2 separate regions of the Homo sapiens genome follow, and region 1 is reported to be linked to region 2. Evidence: microRNA targets listed by miRTarBase, many of them from high-throughput screens and not tested one by one. Region 2 holds a microRNA gene; the other region holds the end of a gene's coding sequence.
Evidence for each region. The annotated mature microRNA hsa-miR-6505-3p reads UGACUUCUACCUCUUCCAAAG and lies in region 2 at 2,742-2,762, opposite strand. An mRNA with a match to its seed (bases 2 to 7 or 8) in the 3' UTR can be bound and repressed. Matches are read on the target gene's strand: a 7mer-m8 pairs with bases 2 to 8, a 7mer-A1 pairs with bases 2 to 7 and ends in A, and an 8mer does both.

Region 1 (5,406 bases), not on the chromosome of region 2:
TACAAAAAGGTAATTACAGTTTAGTTACAGTTTAGTTCTGTTAAGTATTGTTAACATATGGGAGTGCTATGGAGCATAAGAAGTGAATGATTAACTGTGTGGAGAGTCTTAATGTTTTTGCCAGGGATAAAAGAAGGTGGAGCGCAGGGATCAGGAGGCTGAGAGGGAAGAGGCAGCAGAACAATTTGTGTAAAAGCATGTTTGGGGAAAGCTTAATATGGCAGGTGTATTTAAGAACTCTAGAGTTAGAGTGTAGCATGATAGTAGATGACAGTAAGTAGATATGGAACCAGGCTGTAAAAAAAGCCTTGTATAATATTCTGAGGAGTACAGACCTTCCAATTAAGCACGAGGAAACCATTGGTAGTTTTTAAGCAAGGATTGTAATATGATTACATTTGTCTGGAGTGGTTATTTTGTGTGGGGACAGAATACAAGGAGATGGGAATTTTAAAGTCTTTCTAATAGTCCAGGAGGAATCAAGGACAAGGGAATGGAGATGGAGACCTTTCTGATTTCTGGTGCTGCCTTCAGAGGTAATTGACCAAAAGTATGAAATGAAGACATTCTACAGGTTTTTAGATTTTCAGTTTTGTTCACCTGCTGCACCTATCTCACCCCCACCACATACACACATACTCCACACATGGCTATTTGTACTAGCTACCAATGATGCCTACATGCATTCCCTTATGCAGTAATCATTAATTGATCCCCTACTATGTGAGACCATTCTATTTTTTCTGATTCTAACTATGGTCTAACTTTGGCCTATGGGCCAAAATCAGCTCATTGCCTCTTTTTTATAAAGTTTTATTGAAACATACACATGTGGCTGGGCGCAGTGGCTCACACCTGTAATCCCAGCACTATGGGAAGCCGAGGATCACTGGAGGTCGGGAGTTTGAGATCATCCTGGCCAACATGGTGAAACCCCATCTCTACCAACAATACAAAAATTAGCCAGGTGTGGTGGCAGGCGCCTGTAGTCCCAGCTACTCGAGAGGCTGAGGCAGGAGAATCTCTTGAACCCGGAAGACAGAAGTTGCAGTGAGCCGAGACAGCACCACTGCATTCCAGCCTGGGTGACAGAGACTCTATCTCCAAAAAAAAAAAAGAAAAACATACACGTGCTCATTCATTTACGTATTCTCTGTGGCTGATTTCACTTTACAGTGGCAGAGTGAAAAGTAGCTCTAGTAGAAACCATGTGGCCTACAAGCCTGAAGTATTTACTCTGGACCTTTACAGAAAATGTTTGCCAATCCCAAACTAGTTAATTCTTACTAGAAGAAAGGAGGGAAGGGGTCTATAATAGTTTCTTAAGGACAGTTGATCTTTGGAGAAGTGGCCTTACTAGTAAATAACTAATTTTTTTTTTCAAATCTAGGGTTGTCCTTACTTTTAAGTGACTATGTTCCAAAAGAGGAAGGTAATATTAGGTACTATTAATCAGGGAACGCTGCTTCGGGAATGTGACTGTAAATTGAATGCTTGGTTGTTGGGAGTAGTAATGTTAAAATGATATGGGAGGTTAAAATATTGGCCTTGCTGATCTAGATGCAGAAGTATCTAGAACCACCTGGACAGCTGTACAGCTTTTTCATTTAACAAAAAGAAAAGAAAAAACTCAGAGCAATATAAAGACGAGATGTAGGTTTAAGGAAACTAGCAGGCTAATGTGGCTAAATTCCAGGCCTGTAGGCCGGGTAATCCTGTGACGAGAATATAAGGATACGTAGCTAGAGGCCGGCATGGTGGCTTGCGCCTGTAATCCCAGCAATTTGGGAGGCCGAGGCAGATCACTTGAGGTCAGGAGTTCGAGACCAGCCTGGGCAACGTGGTGAAACCCCCCCTCTACTAAAAACACAAAAATTAGCCGGGCATGGTGGCACATGCCTGTAATCCGCGCTACTCTGGAGACTGAGGTGGGAGAATTGCTTGAACCTGGGAAGCAGAGGTTGCAGTAAACCAAGGTCACACATGGCACTCCAGCCTGGGTGACAAAGTGAGACTCCATGTCAAAAAAAAAAAAGGATACATAGCTAGAGACCAAGATCTGCTCCAACATACTCCTACTTTAATAATGTTTTTTTGATGGTTGATATATTGAGTAATTGAAAGAATGATAGAAGATTTTATGAATTACATCAGTAGGGTTTTCATGTCTGGCTCATGAACTGATGAGTAGGTGGATGGAATATTGTTTTCACTTCTTTGTTTTAAATTTGTTTCTTTAGGATCTATAGCAGAAAAGCTTTCTAAGGCGAAATTGGGTGAGAGGTCTGTGTGTGTCTCCTCAGTTTTTAAAATCTTTCTTTCTTTCAGGTTATCCTACCTACAAAGAAAAAGTAAAGAAAAGGCCTGGAGGCCGCCCAGAAGTGATCTACAACTATGTCCAAAGACCCTTTATTCGAATGTCCTGGGAGAAGGAAGAAGGAAAGAGTCGGCATGTAGACTTTCAGTGTGTAAAGAGTAAATCTATCACCAATCTTGCAGCAGCTGCAGCAGACATTCCCCAGGACCAGCTGGTAGTCATGCATCCAACTCCACAAGTGGATGAGCTGGATATTCTCCCTATCCATCCCCCTTCTGGCAACAGTGACCTCGATCCTGATGCACAGAATCCAATGCTGTGATGCTGATCTTCCTTGAAACCATAGCATGCTACTCTTCACAGTGACGTTGTACTCTCCTCATTCTGCACTGCAAGGCCACTCTTCTTCATTGTGAGATGCACATAACAATGTTTAGGATATTGCAGTGTAGGCTTTTTTAAAGACCAAAGGTAGCTGAATGGTTTTTTTTTAAATGAGTACAACTCTAGCATTTTGAAGTTCCAGTTGTAAATGTATTTGTTTACCAGTAGGTTTGTGAAATTGGTTCTTTGTATGGGGGATGGTCCTTTTTCACACAGCTAGGTCTTTTCAGAAGTGGTGGAAATTGGCAGCTGGGGTACTTTCAGTTTGGACTGATATTCATCACACCTCAGATAAAATGCAGAGTAATATATAGTTGCACTTTATAAATGGTGGTTAAATGGAAATGTTCAAGCCATTTTATAGTTGTGATGCACAATATAATTTAAGTGCTTCTGTCAAAGTATTCCTCCAGTACAATTTGTATAGTTTGCTGCCCTTGATGAGCAAAAAGTATTTATCTTGGGCTTATCTGAATGATCAGGATGAGATTTAATGCCCATATCTTACCAGTTCAGTTATCTCCAGAGCCATTTCACCCTTTAGAGTGAGTCACATGCAGGGAGTGTGAATGTCAGAGGTGGTTTATTATCCAGTCTGCCTTACCCTTAATCTGTTCACAGATATTTATTTACTAATGCTTTTTTTTTCTTAAGAGTTATGGGATAGGAAAATGAAGTGTTTGCTCTTCATTTACTAAATGATTGTAAACTTGAGTTTTTCATCAAAATAAAATTCCATTGTTTTAATGTTTCTGACCAAATTTATAACCACATTGACCAGATTTTTAGTCTCATAATTTCCCATCTCGGTGGTGTAAGTATTATTAGAAATAGTAGCTCAAGGAACTTTTACTATATGTGTGATGAGGCATTTAAATTCCCTAATTATAAAATGTACTATAAATCAAAACAATATTTATTAGAGCTGAAAAGAGTATTTTCTAGTCCAACTTGATATGAAGGGCAAAATGACTTTACTAGGTCATATAGTCACCCTAAGTTTCAGAGCCAGTTTCTCATACTAGTTCAGTGCTTTTTCCATTATACCATGCTACTTTGCTTAGCAAATTATTTATGCAAATGCTATTCTAAATATTCTGTGGTCCAATTCAAGAAGGGATCAAATATTTAGGTGCTTTAGGACTGGGGTCACTTACTATATAACTGAAGTAGTATTAGAGAGGTGCAGCATTAGAGAAGCCAATTTGTTAAATATAATCTTGAATTTATAATTTCAGAGGATTCGATGTTTGTGGATAAGCAGTAACATCTTTGTTCTCACATAAATTAAAATTGCAACAATTTATAAATGAACTATTTTAACAACACAGCTAAGCTAGTAGCATGGGGAAATTATGCAAGCCCAGAATCGTTATGAAGGCCAGAAAAGCACCACAAATGCTACTGGCGTAGATCATCCTTGAACACCCACTGTAGAAACTTATAATCCAGCCCTGCAACACGTAGGATTTTTTTTCTAATTATTTGAAATGTGAACAGTATTTATAGAACAAGGGAAACATTTATTAAAAATATTTAACTGTCTAGTACATTATACTTTAACCCATATTTATAGTAAAGGATTCTTACAAGGAAGAATAAACGGCTTTATGATACAATTAGTATAAGAAATATCCACATGGGGGACTTCTTTGTAGTGTAAAAACACCATACATCTGAAATGACCATTTGCATATAAAAGCTACCAATGATGCTTCTGTGCACAATGATTAAAAAATTCAACACAAACAGAATCCAAAATATACAATTAATGCAAGCTATCCACAGCTAGCCCAATAATCAATGATGAGGAAACACTGGAGCAGGCTTAGTTCCACTTTGTCTGAAGTTACATATAGTAAGATTGACTTGTATCAATGGCTCTGAGATGGCTTTTATGAAGTCAGTACATAAAAGCTATTCTCTCCTTATCCAGTAAGCTTCACAGACTGTAAAACTCCACCAGTAATGCACTTTGATACTATAGCTGTTGCCAAAGCAACATGTAGTGTTTACAGCGGCCATGGCAAGTCACTAAAGTCAACAGGGCCACCCAGTCCAGCATCTGCTTCCAAGAGGCTCATGATGACAGCCATTGCTGCCTCATCATTACTGGGACTACTTGATCCTTGGTCGTTGTCAATCATGTCTATACCTATGTGGGGGTTCTCACCTGTGGGAGGAGATAAAGACTGGTCAGTGATTTCTTTTTTAAAGCATCTTCAGATTAAGTAAGCAATTCCTAAGCACATTTTTAATAAGAAAGTTACATTTAATGGTAGGGTGAGATGCTGCTTTTTGGGCTGCATGGCTATCTTTTTTTATATCGCTGTTTTTTAGAGGAAAGAACCAATTTTTTAAAAATACGTAAGAAATAAGTGGGGTTACGTTGTGAAGAGACAGCTCTAAGGAATCAAATGATCATTTTAGAAATAAGTACAAAGCGCTTAAAATTTAGTAAATGTTAAAAATATTTGAGTCAAGCTTATTTTAATAATCTGATGTAACCAGTTAAGAGGAGTTACAAAAAGAAAGGCAAATAGGAAGGGAGAGTTTAGGAAAAAAACAGATCTAGAAAGCCCAGGGGAGAAAAAGATGGATGTGATGGGAAAAGCAAACTCTTTTCACTTAATGACTTTTAATACCTTCTGATATGCTTACTAATCACCCTTCTAGGCATTATCTCTGAACCTTCATTAGCCTTC
Region 2 (5,406 bases):
ATTGTTCCTCACCATTAGGAAGGCGTAGTCTCTCACCATTTTTGTAACAGAAGAGAACCCTCAAGTGTATGGGAATGGGTCAGTGGCCACTGCAGCCCAAAGGCTGGTGGAGAGGCAATGCGACCAGTGATGTAAGTCCCTGTCTGGTGAAGTGCAGCCCTGAGGGGGCAGGACTACAAGGTTGAGGGTTTCAAGGCATGAGGGCCACACAGCCCAGTGACTTACCAGAATTCTGTCAAAGGCTGATGGCGTCCCACCCCTCTGCACATGCCCCAAGACAGTAACCCGGGTGTCATATCCCAGACGCTTAACCACCAGCTGAAGGGACCAACAGAGGGACAGAGAGAGGGTTACGCAGAGTCAAAGGAAGAAAACAAGCAGAGACTTGGGTAAACCATGGACAGCTCAGCCTCTTGTCTTGTAATGGTTCTTTGTGGGAGGCAATCAGGGGCAGGGAACCAGGGAGAGATGTGCAGAAGGACCAAGGGGAGAAGCAATGTCAGGAGACTCAGAAGCCAGAAGGGAATGGGCTATGGATTCTAAGGCCTCTCTGGCTTCATTCATACGAACATTCTTGATGTCTTCTGAGGTGATTGGTTTTCCATTCTTGTCAATTGCACCCTCAGCCACAATGATGATGTTGAGACGAGAACCACGGGTCCTTGTCTGGTTGAGAACAAAGGGTAAAATGGTCCATGGAATGAAGCTGATGGGTGGGAAAGAGATCATCAGTGGAACAGGGTGAGGGATTTCTTAAGGGCAAAATAAAGTGCAAGTACCTCGCTGAGTCGGCGACAAAGGTGTTCCTCCCAGTCGTCATCTGGTGGACATTCAGGAATAAAAACCCAGTCGGCCCCACAGGACAGAGAGGTGACAAGGGCCAGGTATCTGAGATGAGAGTCAGAAGCATCCTGCTAGAAGTTGTACTCTACAAATAGCCTCACCCATACCCAACAAGTTCTCCTAGTCCTCATAGTTGATAAAAGGTCTGGAGAGCCTCCATTTTATTCGTGGGGCAAGGGTAAGAGCACCGGGGCCCCTCAATGAGATTCTGTCTCTAACGGATACCTTCCATTTATGTTCACCTGCCACAGTGGCTTCCAGCCTCAGAGCACTACCCACTCTTTACACCAAGCACGTGCCTGAGCACGTACACACATGCATGTGTGGGGATGTAACAGAGGGGATGGAGGCCGGAAAGGGAACCACACCACAAGGAGCATGTGCACCTCCAGATCTGCTGCTACTGAGAGACCTCACTGGACTCTCTGGGGAAAAGGAAAGGGCTATCGCTAGGTCCACGGAATAAATGGGTCAGAATGAGGATCTTACCCACAGTGGCGGCCCATTACTTCTAACACAAATGTCCTCTGGTGGCTGCAAGAGATAGACATATGACACAGTCCAAGTGACCCTATGGCCAAGATCAAGCCACCACCCACATCTAGGCCAATTACCCTCTCTGGGAGATACATGTATGCTGCCAGGCCTTCTAGCAGGCTTCCTGAGACCAGGAAGACCTAGGGGAAATACTTTAGCCACAAGGTATCCTTCCTAGGCCTGAGAAAACACAGCAGTAAAAAGTGTCTAAACAGAGGCTCTGTTCCAGGGAGGAACCGGGTCAGGGAAGGGAAGGAAAGGAAAGGATAAGAAGTGAAGGGAGAATTGGACTAACTGGAATCCTTTAGGATTACCCTGGGGTAAACTGTTACCCTTCTATCCTCCCATCCTACATTGCCTCCCCCCAGGTCCCCTTATCTCTGAGCTGTCGTGGTCATAGCAGCACCTATACTTTCTATGATATGGTTGGAAAGCGTAGCTCATGTCTGGGCTCCCTAGATTTGCCCAGTCTGAAGAATAACCATTTACCCCAATGATATGAAAGACCTCAGAGCTGCATATTTGGACAGTGGGCCAGACAGTGGCAAAAGACAAATCATATATCATTAAGGGAACAGTGCAATTTCAGTGCTCTAGATAATTTTTCGTTAAAAATAGTGTTCTAGCCCCAGAAAACTGGCCATTATAGTCACCATAGCTCAAACGCTTTAGTCTTCAGGAGCTTCTAGCCCTTTAGCCTGTCCTAGCTGCCATCTTCTTACACTGCCTACCTCCCAAGTCCCCTTACCTCTGGGCAGTGGTAGTGATGGCATCTACAATTTCCATGATCCGATGCAGGGCAGAGTCAGTGCCAATGGTCATATCGGTGCCACAGAAGTCATTGTCAATTGACCCAACCAGGCCCACAATGTTCAGGTAGCTGGACTTCGTAGCCTCCTCATCTGTGATCTTACCTGACAATGAGAAGCAAACCAGGAGCCACTGGGTGAGGCACCTGGCATGCCTAAAGAGGAGATATCTAGAGAGAGAGAAACTCTAGCCAAAAGGAATTGTAGACAATACCAGAAAAAGGAGGGCAAAGACTGCCTATTTGTGTCTGGGTAACATTTTTCTCCAATGGGAGGTAAAAGCAGGGCGGGGGCGATGTGTGTGTGTACACGCGTGCACGTACCGACACAAATAAGCAATACTGATGTGAAAACTCTCTTACCTGCTTTCTGGAGGTCACTCAACAAGTCACTCCACTCAGAACGGAAGGTGTCAGCCCCAGTGAGGCTGCCATCACCCCCAATGACACAGAGATTGGTGATCCCACGCTTCACCAGGTTGTAGGCAGCTCGGAGTCGTCCTTCTCGTTCCCGAAAGTCCTTGCACCGGGCACTTCCAATCACCGTGCCTCCCTTTGGAAGAGGTAGAAGTCAGCTCCCCAGAGACAGGGCTCAACATGCTGAGATATCCCCTATTCCAATGCTGTGATGGCCTAACATAACTGTGTGACTCCCTAGAAAGTTCCTTGACATCCTTAAGAGTGATCTGTCCCTTCCAAAGGAAAGGGAAATGATGCTGGCTGAGGCATCATAGGGTCATTCCCATATTTTGCTACACATCTGAGAAGACTGCTAAGAACTCCTTTCATTGAAGGCTTTGTCATCCATGACTATCCTAAAGAGAACAAGTGAATACATACATGTATGTTGGCTTCTCAAATAATCTCCAACTTTCACATCTTAGAAGCAGTGACTTCAGTCTTTAGAAATTCTCCCTAATGGCCTGACATTACTGGATTGTGTCCAAATTATTATTAGGAGTTCATCCCAATGTGTTTTGTAGTATTTTTCCTCTCTCTGCACTGAGATTTCTAACTGTACCCAGGTACTGCCAATCCTTTCCCCTTAGCTCCTTGCAATCCATGGTGCTAGCAGCAGAAGCTGCAATATCCAGGTATTCACAGGAAAAATAGCTCTAGGTAAAGAAAGCCTTATAGATACCCCAAGAGAGGTATCTATAAGTCCCTGGGAAATTAAGGCTTTCTATCCCTGAGAGAAAGTATACTTACCTGAGAGAGGTAAGTATACTTAGGTTTTCATATCATATGTACTCCTGGGCAGCCATGACTTTGGGATACTGGTGGAGAATTCTGGCTCATTCTCAGACCACTTTATGGCAGGCACCATTACTTAGCACCTAGGTAGAGCCTTCACTAGACACTGCATATTAAATTTTTGCCCATGGATTTTTAGGGAACTGAGCTGAAAAAAGGGGGATACAAATGTAATTTACAAATTTTCAGTAAACCAGCAAATGATTGTATTTCTCTCACTCACTGTGGGCTAGCCCACAGTGGATACACATGAGAAGCCTAAAACAACATGGAGCAAGTAGCATAAAGGACTGTGGAAATCCTCAGGATACTCTTAGGATTTTTTTGAGACTCCGAAAGGCTGTCTCAGTTCCTTCGTCCTTTAAGTGGTCTGGTTTCAGGTCACCTCATCTCCATCACATGAGGACTGGCAGATTTCAGCTCCACTTCTGGCTCTGGCTCCAGTCCTCTGGTAAGGTTATTTTCAGGGCCAGACCTTCCCTGTGACCCTAGAGTAAGATCTGCTTATGTGTCAGTCCCCATAGTCTTGTTTATGACCTTTCCATAAAGAGCAAAGCATCCTGTGATCACTCCTCCACCCTCTCCCTGCCCCAGGAAACCAGGGTGGTATTTTCAAATGCTAAGAGTAAAGGGCAAATAGGGTCCCTCTCTTGTCACTGAATTCCTTCCCATGAAACCACATGACAGGGAATTTAGGAGACCATGAGCCCAAAACAGAGTGGGATGAAACAAGGACAGAGCAAATATGGGACAGGGAGTTCTCTGGAACATACCAGCTGAAGCATCATCGAAACGCTCTCCCAGGTGGCTTCCTTGATGTGATCTCCACCATCCACCAGGCCTTGATAACCCTGTGTGACACATTATACCTGTTCAGCCCGTTAGGCTTCTCTATAAATTCCCAAGATTAAGACAGGATCCCTGGGAAGAGATTCTCTGAGAGTCAAGCCACCTCCTCCCATTAGTGAGTCCTGGATGCTCGTGAGACTATCATATTTAACACAGTCCAAAGAAGGAGGCATCAACTTTTGCAATACTCTCTTCTACTTTCTCCCATTTTTGAAATACTGGGATGTGGATATCCTTCCTAATAGTTAATCTTAATTCTTATTTTTGGCTCATCCTATCTCCTCCAACCTGCTTCCTAGGGGGCCAATGATAACAGATGGTCTTGATAACCATGGAGAAAAGGAGAAGGGGAAGTTGGTGGGAGGGAAGGAAAGAAACGCGACTTGCTCTAAAAGATTATAAAATCTGATACAAGAAAGCAGGTGGACCTTATAAAAAGAAGAGTGGGTGAAGCATGAGAGGGTACTGGGAGAAGGGTGCAAAAGAAGATTTGAGAACCTCAGAAAGTTATGCAAACTACAGAAATGCAGCAAGTCTCTTTTCTCCTGGGGCTCTTCCTCTGGATATACTAAATTTGCTGTAAATACTACCCATTTCCATTTCTTTCTCTGTTTTGAGGGAGATAAAAGGAGGACTGAGAGTTACTTTTTCCTTTAAATTGAACAGGCAACATGAAGACCCAGTTTGTAGATGCTCAGGTCCCACCATCACTATTGGAGTCAAGTAGGAAAGAGTGACTCATGAAGCTACGGAGTCAAGGAAAATCAAACACAGCAATGTAACTAACTGGGAGGTAAGGACACAGAATGTGGGAAGGGGATAGAAGGCAGATTTAGAAGAAGACAGAGAAAGAATGATGAAGAACAAAGTACAGAACCAACCTCATGGACAAAGAAGACACGGGCACCGGTGAAGATACCAACTCGAACCACAGCCCTGACAGCAGCATTCATACCTGAAAGGAGGGACAAAAGAAGTCACGGAGAGGTTGCTCCTAAGAAAAGGCGCCCTGGAATCCAGAGATATTACATTTGGCTAAAGATAACGAATCAGTACTTTATTTAGTCTTTTCTCTGAATCTAGAATAATCCTCTCATCAAAGTCTTCTGGCCTCC

Region 1: miRTarBase lists BMAL1 as a target of hsa-miR-6505-3p. Seed matches in the 3' UTR shown: 7mer-m8 at 4,347-4,353.

The regions. Positions count from the first base shown.
Region 1 is chr11:13,386,064-13,391,469 of GRCh38, reverse strand. It overlaps BMAL1 (basic helix-loop-helix ARNT like 1), which reads right to left. Exons shown (of 20, transcript NM_001297719.2): 20 at 4,204-4,874. The coding sequence ends at 4,714. BTBD10 (BTB domain containing 10) reads left to right here. Exons shown (of 9, transcript NM_032320.7): 9 at 2,329-3,462. The coding sequence ends at 2,639. Among named protein-coding and RNA genes, the nearest start is that of BTBD10, 74 kb to the left of the region's middle.
Region 2 is chr12:48,130,203-48,135,608 of GRCh38, reverse strand. MIR6505 (microRNA 6505) reads right to left here and starts at 2,812; the gene lies at 2,742-2,812. PFKM (phosphofructokinase, muscle) reads right to left here. Exons shown (of 23, transcript NM_000289.6): 3 at 5,173-5,246; 4 at 4,216-4,293; 5 at 2,552-2,741; 6 at 2,129-2,294; 7 at 1,333-1,377; 8 at 780-888; 9 at 571-666; 10 at 226-318.